Linked DNA regions of Homo sapiens: region 1 is reported to be linked to region 2. Evidence: microRNA targets listed by miRTarBase, many of them from high-throughput screens and not tested one by one. Region 2 holds a microRNA gene; the other region holds the end of a gene's coding sequence.
The links. Region 2 holds the annotated microRNA hsa-miR-335-5p (UCAAGAGCAAUAACGAAAAAUGU, at 2,526-2,548, shown strand). A microRNA usually pairs through its seed, bases 2 to 8, with sites in the 3' UTR of a target mRNA and lowers its output. Matches are read on the target gene's strand: a 7mer-m8 pairs with bases 2 to 8, a 7mer-A1 pairs with bases 2 to 7 and ends in A, and an 8mer does both.

Region 1 (5,071 bases), not on the chromosome of region 2:
GCAGAGATTAGGTTCCTCATGAGTAGAATGAGATCAGAATTCCCCAGGGCACACAGCATGTTTGAAAGGACGAACTCCTGTCCCATCACTGGCAGTTTGGCTCTTTAGCAGGCCTGGGTTTCCAGCACATTCCTGCTCCTCAGGGCCTGTCTTAGCCATTCAAGACCCAGGGTCACCTAAGTGGTAGAAGCCATTCTAGGGAAGGAGGAGGAAGGAAGAAGGGGGTATCCAGGAAACAAAGGAGGCTGCTGGGGGCTCGGGGAGGCAGGGAATCCCTCCTGCTGCTGGGAAAGGGGGATGGGAACAGAAACAGCATCCCACGTGCCAGGCGCCTGGAGCAGCCAGGAGGGCTGTCGGCAGGGCAGATGGAGAAGCAGCCTGCGCGGCCCTCCCAGCTCCCCGGGGGCCTGTGGGCAGCAGGGGGAGCCAAAGCCCTTCCTTCCAAGAGCTCTTTACATAAGTGCTTGGAAAGGCCGGGCCTTATTAGAGTGTCTCAGTCTCTGTGACCCTGACCGCAGGCAGGCAGCTGGGCCAGCGTGCACAGGAAGCTGGACAGAGCGTTCCCAGAAAGGCCACGGGACTGACGCCTGTGGGTTTCCATCGTGTTTCTGGAGGAAAAAGGAGGCTTAAAAAAAAAAAAGTACTGAGTTAGAAAAAACAAGAAAGTATTTCCAGACAGTAGCAGCTCTGCTAATGGCCTAGAAAACAATCTGGGACTAGGGCATGGGGAGGGGAATGTGCTGAGACTGTGCCCTGGGTGGGTGGGAGTCCATCAAACCCCTCCTTTTGGAGCTGGGCTGAGGGGGTCGGAACTTTCTCTTGAGGGAAATGTAGGCCCATGCCTGCCCTGCCACGAGGGATCTGGGCTGTGGGAGGGACGCCCTGGCTGAGGAGGCCACGGGGGCCTACTTTGCAGCCCCTCATTGACCCACTGTCTTTCCTTCCTCAGATCCTGATCTCCGGGAGGGACAGATGGCCAATCTCTCCCCTTCCAAAGCAGGCCCTGCTCCCCGGGCAGCCTCCCGCCGAGGGGCCCAGCCCCCAACCCACAGGCACGGAGGGGCATCCCTCCCTGCCGGCCTCAGGGAGCGAACGTGGATGAAAACCACAGGGATTCCGGACGCCAGACCCCATTTTATACTTCACTTTTCTCTACAGTGTTGTTTTGTTGTTGTTGGTTTTTATTTTTTATACTTTGGCCATACCACAGAGCTAGATTGCCCAGGTCTGGGCTGAATAAAACAAGGTTTTTCTACTCTGTGGCTCTGCATGCGGCCTGCTGGCTGGCTGGCCAGCCACAGCTAGTTTGGGCCTGGGGGATGTCCTTAGGCATCATCCTTCCCCTCGCCAAATGTGGAAAGGGCAGCCACCACCCGGTCAGGACCACAGTGACCATGAGGGCGCTGAGCCCATCGTGGAAGCCTGTGGGGTTGAGCCCTTGGCCAAGCCTGTCGCATGGGAATGGGACCACATCCGACTAGGGGAGGGCCCTGCAGCGGGGTGGGCGGCACCAGCCTGCTCTCCCTGCTCAGCCCCTGCTCCTATCTGGGCTCGTGTGCCCACTGCTGCCCCTTCTCAGCCTTCAGCCTCACACTCCCACCGGTCCCCCTCCTGGCCCTCTCACTCTCACACCGTTCACTCTCCACCAGCCACCCACTCCCTTACAATTGCAGGCTCCCGAACTCAAGTCTCCTGAAGGCCAGGTGCTGTGCTAGGGCACACGCAGGAGCATCGTAGCTTCTGCCCTCAGGGAGCGCATAACCACAGGGAACGGGGAGCACGCGTTGCCCAGTGAGGCAGCACCTAGGGGTTCTGGGGAGCCTTCACATGGGAGAGAGCCTCCTTCCAGGCAGGGAGGGGAGAAGAGGATTCTTGGCAGAGAGACAGCATTGAGCAGAGATCATGAGGTGGGGCTGCAGGCCGACAGGGTGTGAGTGGGAGATGGAGGGAGGCCCCGCAGCCCTGCAGCCCCCGTCCCCTGCCCTGGCTGTGGCATCCCAGAGGTCCTGGACACTGGAATGGACCAGGAAGAAGTGAGAGGGTGGTGCCTCTCCTCCTCGAGGCCCTGAACAACGAGCCCTCGGGATGCCTCCAGACCCACCTGCTTCCCTGTGGGGGCAACACCAGTGAGAAAGGGAAAGAGACTTTGTCCAAGTACCAGGGCTCTGGGTTCCAGGGCCAATCCTGCTCACTGCTGTGTGACTGTGGGCAAGTCAGACTTCATCTCCGGGCCTCAGTTTCCTCATGAGTAAGATGGGAATGCCCTCCTGCCTGGCTCCCACACTGACATGGAGAGTTGATGAGCTACTGCTGCAGGGGAGGTGCCGGGGGAGCTACAGGGTGTCAGCACCCACCCCTCCAGATCTTGGTGAGCCCCAGCCCATTTGCAGAGGTCCTCCAAGAAGGTGTCCCCTGCTTTTGGCTCTGATGCGATCCTTGCCTCAGGGTCCCTGGTAGCAAGGAGGTTTTCTGGTGCAGTAGAGAGGGAGGGCTTCTTGGAGCCATGCTATGCATCCAGGAGGGTTCTGGCCCAGTCCCCTGGAGCCCTTGGGCCACTCACCAGCCCAGGCAGCAGGGTGGAGTGGGTGTGGCTGCAGCCCTCCCTCGGCCCTTCCTCTGCAGGTCTGGCTGGGATTTAACTCTGCTGACAGGGTAGGTGCCGCAGCTCTGCCACTCTCCCTCTGGAGCTGGACCAGGACGGGTGAGAGGAGTACAGGCACATGCCTGTCATCCAGGGCTGCCATTCTGCTGCATCCCCTGCCGGTGTGTGCTTCCCAAGATGCTGTCCTTATTGCAGCCCCACCCCCTCTCCTTCCTAGATACTCCCAGGAGTGAGCTTGGGAGGGGGTCAGACAAGGTCAACCAATTCCAGACTGTCAGGAGGCCCGTATGAGGTAGAGACAAAAGCCCCCATTTCTCAGGTCAGAAAACTGAAGCCTGTCTGAGACCACAGGCAAGTTCAAGGCAGACACAGTGCTGGAGCTCACGTCTCTAAGCCCTAGGCCAGGGCCAAATGCCGGGTGTGTGCAGTTTTCTGGGGAGATCTGTACCCTCAGCAGATGAGCTATGGCCCTGAACACAGAATTGGATGGAAGGAGAGAGTAAGGGTGGCTTTTCCAAAAAGCCCACACATCACAAAGTGTGGGGAGGTGGGGAGCACACAAGGAGACTCCCAGACACAGTGCTCCCGCGTGCCCATGAACCTTTGGCCTGAAGTTCAGATTCTAGGGGGGCTGGTGGATGTCCCCAAGCCTGCCATCAGAGTGAGGACACCTGGGCCAGTCCTCACATGCTGGGAGGACTCTGAGATTAGATCTCTGGGGAGGGGCTTCAGATACCCCTTTGCCCCCCAAAAAGCAGAGGAGGCTTTCACCCAAAGGAGAAGAGAGATAGAGAGAGAAGAGAGAAGACAGCCGTGACGCGCAGGGACCAGGGCAGCCCTCACCGCTTCCTGGCTGACCTGTCAGGGCCCTATCAGTGCAGCTTCACGGCACTGCCCAGCAGTGACGGCCCCTCGGGAAAGGAGATGCAGCTGCTCCCACCTCAGGGGGCAGGGTTTCCTCAGGTATTTTGACTCCATGTAGAATGGCAGAGTCTCCCTGAGAATGGGGAGAGAAAAACTGTCAAGACGGCAGGGGCCCAGCAGGCGCTGAGCTGAGGAGGGCGGCTGGGAGAGGAGTGCTCTCCCAGCTCGGCCTCAGCCTCTTGAGGTCTGTCTGGCTGTCACTGCATGGAGGAACAGCCTGCTTGTTCCTTGTTCTTGCTGTCACCTGGCTCGGGCCCCTCCCTAGATAGAGCTCACCTGTTGGGCTCACCCCACCAAGCCAGGCCCAGGGAGGGGTGTGTGAGGCCCACTGGAGGCCAGGTCACGTGACGCAGGGACTCAGGCCCACTGGTCCCTTCACCCTTCCGTTTGCCCCTTCAAGGCCAGCTGAAACCCCGATTTCTCGAAGCCTTCCTTAACCATCCCCTCTCCCCTTCAACTGGGGTGCACTGTGTGGCCTCATTCAGGACTCTCCCACCCCCACCCTGCCACGGACACACAGGGGCATGGGAGGAGGCACCCGAGCCTTGCATGCTGGACAAAGGTTACATAGGTGCCATCTCAGCCAGGTGCAGTGGCTCACGCCTGTAATTCCAGCGCTGTGGGAGGTCGAGGCGGGCAGATCACTTGGGGTCAGGAGTTCGAGACCAACTGGCCAACACGGCAAAACCCCATCTCTGCTAAAAATACAAAAATTAGCCAGGCATGGTGGCACGCGCCTGTAATCCCAGCTATTCGGGAGGCTGAGGCAGGAGAATCGCTTGAACCCAGGAGGCGAAGGTTGCAGTGAGCCAAGATTGTGCCACTGCACTCCAGCCTGGGCGATAGAGTAAGACTCTACCTCAAAAAAAAAAAAAAAAGAAAAGCAAAACAACAACAACAAAAAAACCATAGGTGCCATCTTCACTCCTGACCCAGCACCTCCTTCTGGGCTGCACAGACCAAGAGGGTCTCTGCTGGTACACTGGGCACTGGTGTGCAGGAATCCACCTGGGCTGTAAGGGCCTCAAGTCACCTGCCCAGCATCCCTCCCTGTCCTCTTCTTGCTCAGCCCCAGGGCTGGGGAGCTCACTGCTTCTCGAGACATTTGCTGTTAGAAACACCTTGAGGTGAAACAGACCCCCACCCCCTGCCCCGCAGCCTTCCCTTGGGCTGGTCCTCGGGGTCTACTAAGTAAATGACTCTGGTGGATGTGACTGGACAGCAGGAAGGACAGAGACAGCAGAGGCGACACCTGGCAGGGGGCACAGCTGTGGCCCTGACTCTGTCCTTCAGTGGGCCTCAGTCTCCCTATCTGTCCTGAGGGGGCTGAGTGTCTTGCTAGTCCTTACCTGGCAGAGAAGAAGGGGCAGGGGAAGAGAAGAGAGGGAGGGGAGGAAATGGGAGGTAGAAGGAGGCTGGGTAGGGAGTGATAGGCAAAGTCCAGCCTGGGGGAAGGTGGGCAAGCAGCAGGGGGACTGCCTCAGAAGGGGAGCAGGGAGCCAGCAGAGGCACTGCTAGGGCTGCAGCCTGGTGAGGGCTGGGGCG
Region 2 (5,071 bases):
TATGTTGGTCGATAGCCTCGTTTTTTAACCCCCCACTTTCCCTGAGCAGCGGCGGGGAAGCCTCCCCATTTGCCGCTCTGGCCGCCCCTCCCGGGGCTCTCTGCTGAGTCACTGCAGAGATTCAGCTGCTGGAACCCCGGGGATGAATGCGATGAGAAGCACTGGGGGAAAGGAGTAATGAAATCTGCACATGAAAATGTATACATTGAAGTACAGGACAGATAGGGCTGGGCAAATGATCGTCAAAACCTAATGGTTTTTGTCATCTGACCTTTCAAGGAGATACTGGGATACAGCCTGCTATTGTTGGGTGAAAACTGTGATATAACCATCATGTTCTGGCACTTTTTTGAACCATTTCTAGTATTACCTTGAGAAGTAGGACCAAATGGTTCTATCCGTCTTATGGACAGGTACTTTGGAGAAAAAAAGAAATGACTGCCCTAATAATGCCTAAAAAATAGCCTGGGGAGCTGACATTGTTTAAGAAACATGGTTATTTTACCACTGTAAAACCACAGGCTTGTTTTTAGATTTTAGCAAAAAGTATCAGGGATATGGGGGGGAAAAGTATCTTGTAAGTTGAGGAAGTTAGCGAACGGGTAGGTAGATTACAGGCAATAGGGAAGAATGTGTGTACAGACGGAAAGCCATTTCCCCCAGGGCTTTAGCAATTAATTTATTTCAGCTCTATGACAACTCTAATTTTAGTTTTGGAGGGTATTATTTCCATTCTGGCTGTTTTGAGAGAACTTCCATTCTACTGACAATTCTTGATCTGTTGACCATCAGAAGTCATAGACTTGAAACAGAACGGTTTATAATTCCTGTTTGGCACTCCTTGTCAATGTGGATAAACTGACTTGTGCCTTTGAAGTCCTGGGCATGGGAGGGTTGGGTGTACCAACCAGTGCTCTTTTTCCAAAGACAAAATCAATTCTCACACGCTGGGTATGAGTTATGCCTTATCTGGGGGTGGGGGAGCATCTTAGGAAATTAAATGGAAACTTAAAGAGTCTGCTAAGAAAAGCAGAAATGTAATCTACCGCCTTGACCTCTCAAGAGATTAGATATTCAGGGTCATGACAAAGCTGCTTATGTTGGAATACACAGTGCAGCTATCTTACTTTCACAGACTGTTTACCCTGAGCAGTTTCTCAGCCCAAATCCAGAAAGGAGTACTAAATGGGGCTTCATTTAGGCAGGAGGGCTGAAAATCAGGAGTAGCTCTCTGCTTGAGGACATGTGATAAGTTACTACACACACACACTCTTTAAAACATGAGATATAGCACATATATATTTTTTGAACATTTTACTGGTTGGGGGTAGTGGGTAGATGGTAGAGCTTTTGGAGTAAATAAGAAAGAAGTTATTTTTTTCCTGGGAAGCCTTGATAAAAGTCAACGAAAGAGTGTCCAGCATTTAAGTCATGTCCCTTTTATTTATATAAAGTCCTCTTCAGCAGGTATTGGGAAGACCACAAGGGTAGGGGCTAAGGGGTTAAAGTCGGGGAGCAGAGGCAGAAGATTATATGTTGAAATAATGTATTTTTTTTCCTTAAGATTAGAATGATGAACAAATATGGTGAGTGCTATGGCAGACAGAGGTTTGATTATAGTCTCGGTCAGCTTTGTGCCTATGTGAAGGGCAATGTAATCATTGCATGGTAACAGCAATCTCCCACCCCATCTTACCAGGTTTTGGTTTGTAGATGAGTGGACAATGTTACCTGACTGCTTACAGTGGGTCTCTGCTTTTCCTACAGGATGAGGGAGTGGTGGGTCCAGGTGGGGCTGCTGGCCGTGCCCCTGCTTGCTGCGTACCTGCACATCCCACCCCCTCAGCTCTCCCCTGCCCTTCACTCATGGAAGTCTTCAGGCAAGTTTTTCACTTACAAGGGACTGCGTATCTTCTACCAAGGTAAGAAGTGGACTATTGGAAGTCCTGCGTGTATCGGTCACATAAGTCCCAGCTGAGGTATTTATTTTGTGGCTATTGGTCTCTTGTTGCTCCTTAATGATGGAGGAGAGTATCTCTCTCTCTTTCTGTGTAGTGTGCTTGCAGAGAAGCGCAGAAAACTGCTGGGAGAATGGGGGTAGGGACTGAGATTCCAACCTGCAGACCTTACCTTTTAGTATAAGTTTTCTTTGTAGCTTGATATGTATTCCAATATTAGTTTTTTTTTTTTTTTGAGCAACCTGTCAGGTAATATATAAAATATTAATAGATATAACCACCATTGGTTCTCTCTCCTTACCATCCCTGATTTCATTTTTTCTGTAGATTATTTGTAGTGTAACTGTGATTTAAGTCTTGATACCATTATATAAATTAATTTGCTAGTGATGATGATTATTATGACCACTACTTATCAAGTAATTACCATATGCCAGGCACTGAGTTATGTTTTCAGCCTTCATTGTTTAATCTTTACAACAGCATTTGGAGATAGGTGCCATTAACCTCATTTTATAGGTGAAGAAACTGAGAAACAGATTGGAAATGATTTGTTTTGAGCGGGGGTCAAGAGCAATAACGAAAAATGTTTGTCATAAACCGTTTTTCATTATTGCTCCTGACCTCCTCTCATTTGCTATATTCAATTAAGTAAGTATACAATTTTTATTATGTTGGCTTGGGTTACTTCCAGTTTTACTGTTTTAGAAAACTAATGTTGAAGTAAAAGCTTCATGTCCATACAGTTTATTTTTTCCTTACATTTTCAAACTATACTACTTGTATAAATGGAATGATTTTATTTGCACAGATTCTCAAGAACAAAACTCTTAGGCTAAAGTATATACAATTTTTAACTGCTTCTAAATTATTTTTGAAAACCTTATTACCAAATTTTCATGTCACTGGCAGTATATGAATATACCTGTTCTAATCCCATACTATTAGCAAGGTTAATATTGTCTAAATGTTTACCTAATTTAGATGATGCTGAATGCTTCCATATTGTCATATGCATTAAAAAAGTTCATGTTTATGTTGATTAAGCCCTTTTTATAGTTGACAGGATTTTGTAATAGTTTTATTATGTTTTTGATGTTAGATTGGGTCTCCTGCTGAATAAAAAGTGCTGAGCAAACAGCATAAGCTAAAGGTGTTCCTTGGGAATAGTTGCTGTATCTTAGAGAATTTCTGTGAGGCCATTCATGATAAAGTACAAAGAATTTGTAGTTTATGTGTTGTGATCATATGCTTTTAACTGAAAATTTACTTTTCACTGAAAAAATTTGCATATTACAGAACAAAAGGAGAAATGGGGAGATGCTGTTTAAAAACACCTAGGTGAAAGTAAACAAGGTGCCTTCAAGTATTTTCACATAGCATGATTTTTACAATGTTTTAATATACAGATTGAAAGGAGAAAAGGCCTGTTCTCACCTAACGCAGTTAAGCTTACATTTTACAAATAATTGTGTCATTTTAATGTCAATTTGGTCACAGTTGCTTGTTCTTTGTATCAGATTACTTAGATTTTAACATCTTCGAGGTTATTTTTATAGGGATTTGGCATAATTGATTGTACTTTCCTTCTTCCTAGACTCTGTGGGTGTGGTTGGAAGTCCAGAGATAGTTGTGCTTTTACACGGTTTTCCAACATCCAGCTACGACTGGTACAAGGTAATGAAGTCAGACTTCTACGTCCTACTATGTCTTAAAAAATCTCGGCCGGGCGCGGGGGCTCAAATCCTAGCACTTTGGGAGGCTGAGGTGGGAGGATGACCTGAGGTCAGGAGTTTGAGACCAGCCAGGCCAACATGGCAAAACCCCATCTCTACTAAAAGTATAAAAATTGGCCAGGCATGGTGGCACAAGCCTGTAATCCCAGCTACTTGGGAGGCTGAGGCAGGAGAATCGCTTGAACCCGGGAGGCAGAGGTTGCAGTGAGCTGAGATTGCACCACTGCACTTCAGCCTAGGTGACAGAGCGAGAGTCTGTCTCAAAAAAAAATTTTTTTTTAATAAAAATTTAAAAAACCTCAAGGATTTTGTTGTCAGCACCAGAAGGCTCTTGCACATTTGAATTGCTTTTAAAAAAACATTAAATGTTGAACTGTTCCTTATTTACTGAAGGGAATAAACAACTCCTTGGCACTCTGGAAGGGATCACTGCCAAGTTACCCTCCCTCAACAGGGATTAATTACCAGGAATAAAGCATTTTCCAAGAGGATCATCTGTGGGACCTGTGGTAGTTTCATGGCGTTTTCTCTTTATGGAAGTCTGTTAAGCCAAGATAGGGCTGAAGCTCCTGTGCAACTGTAGGTCTGGTGAAAGGGAGGGGCAGGAGCAGAAAGCCCAAATCATCGTTTCTTTCTTGTAGATTTGGGAAGGTCTGACCTTGAGGTTTCATCGGGTGATTGCCCTTGATTTCTTAGGCTTTGGCTTCAGTGACAAACCGGTAAGCAGCACCTATGTGGGGCTGGTGATGGGGTGTGGGGGCAGACGCAGACTATGAGGGTCAGGCTGGCAGAGAGAGCTGTCCTCATGACTTCATCCTGTGTATGTGGGCTTTCCTTTCCTCAGAGACCACATCACTATTCCATATTTGAGCAGGCCAGCATCGTGGAAGCGCTTTTGCGGCATCTGGGGCTCCAGAACCGCAGGATCAACCTTCTTTCTCATGACTATGGAGATATTGTTGCTCAGGAGCTTCTCTACAGGTCAGTGGAGCTTCAGACTTCAGCTTATGATGCTAGGAAAGTACATTGTTTCTGGACTGTTTGTATCCTTTTTCTCTCGTTTTCAGCGGTGCACTGGTTTAAGTTTGCTCAGCTACATGTGTGTTTCCTCGTCTCCCTTCTAGGTACAAGCAGAATCGATCTGGTCGGCTTACCATAAAGAGTCTCTGTCTGTCAAATGGAGGTAATTGCCTTGGCGGTAGGTAGAAAGTGGGTGTAATCTAGAAGGGCCATCTTTAGATACAGCGGCACCTAAATGGTAATCTGATAATATTTCAAGTAGACATAATTAAACTATGGGATCTCTACCTCTTCTGTGCCATCAACTCCTTTGGTGGTCTGACAAGATTTATGGACCCTTTCTCAGAATGTTTTAAA

Region 1: miRTarBase lists LOXL1 as a target of hsa-miR-335-5p. The part of its 3' UTR that is shown has no 7-base or 8-base seed match.

Annotation. Positions count from the first base shown.
Region 1 is chr15:73,950,882-73,955,952 of GRCh38, forward strand. LOXL1 (lysyl oxidase like 1) reads left to right here. Exons shown (of 7, transcript NM_005576.4): 7 at 950-1,255. The coding sequence ends at 956. Among named protein-coding and RNA genes, the nearest start is that of LOXL1-AS1, 25 kb to the left of the region's middle. RefSeq lists an enhancer at 1,650-2,333.
Region 2 is chr7:130,493,601-130,498,671 of GRCh38, forward strand. MIR335 (microRNA 335) reads left to right here and starts at 2,511; the gene lies at 2,511-2,604. It overlaps MEST (mesoderm specific transcript), which reads left to right. Exons shown (of 12, transcript NM_002402.4): 2 at 1,768-1,922; 3 at 3,556-3,635; 4 at 4,336-4,413; 5 at 4,539-4,675; 6 at 4,819-4,877.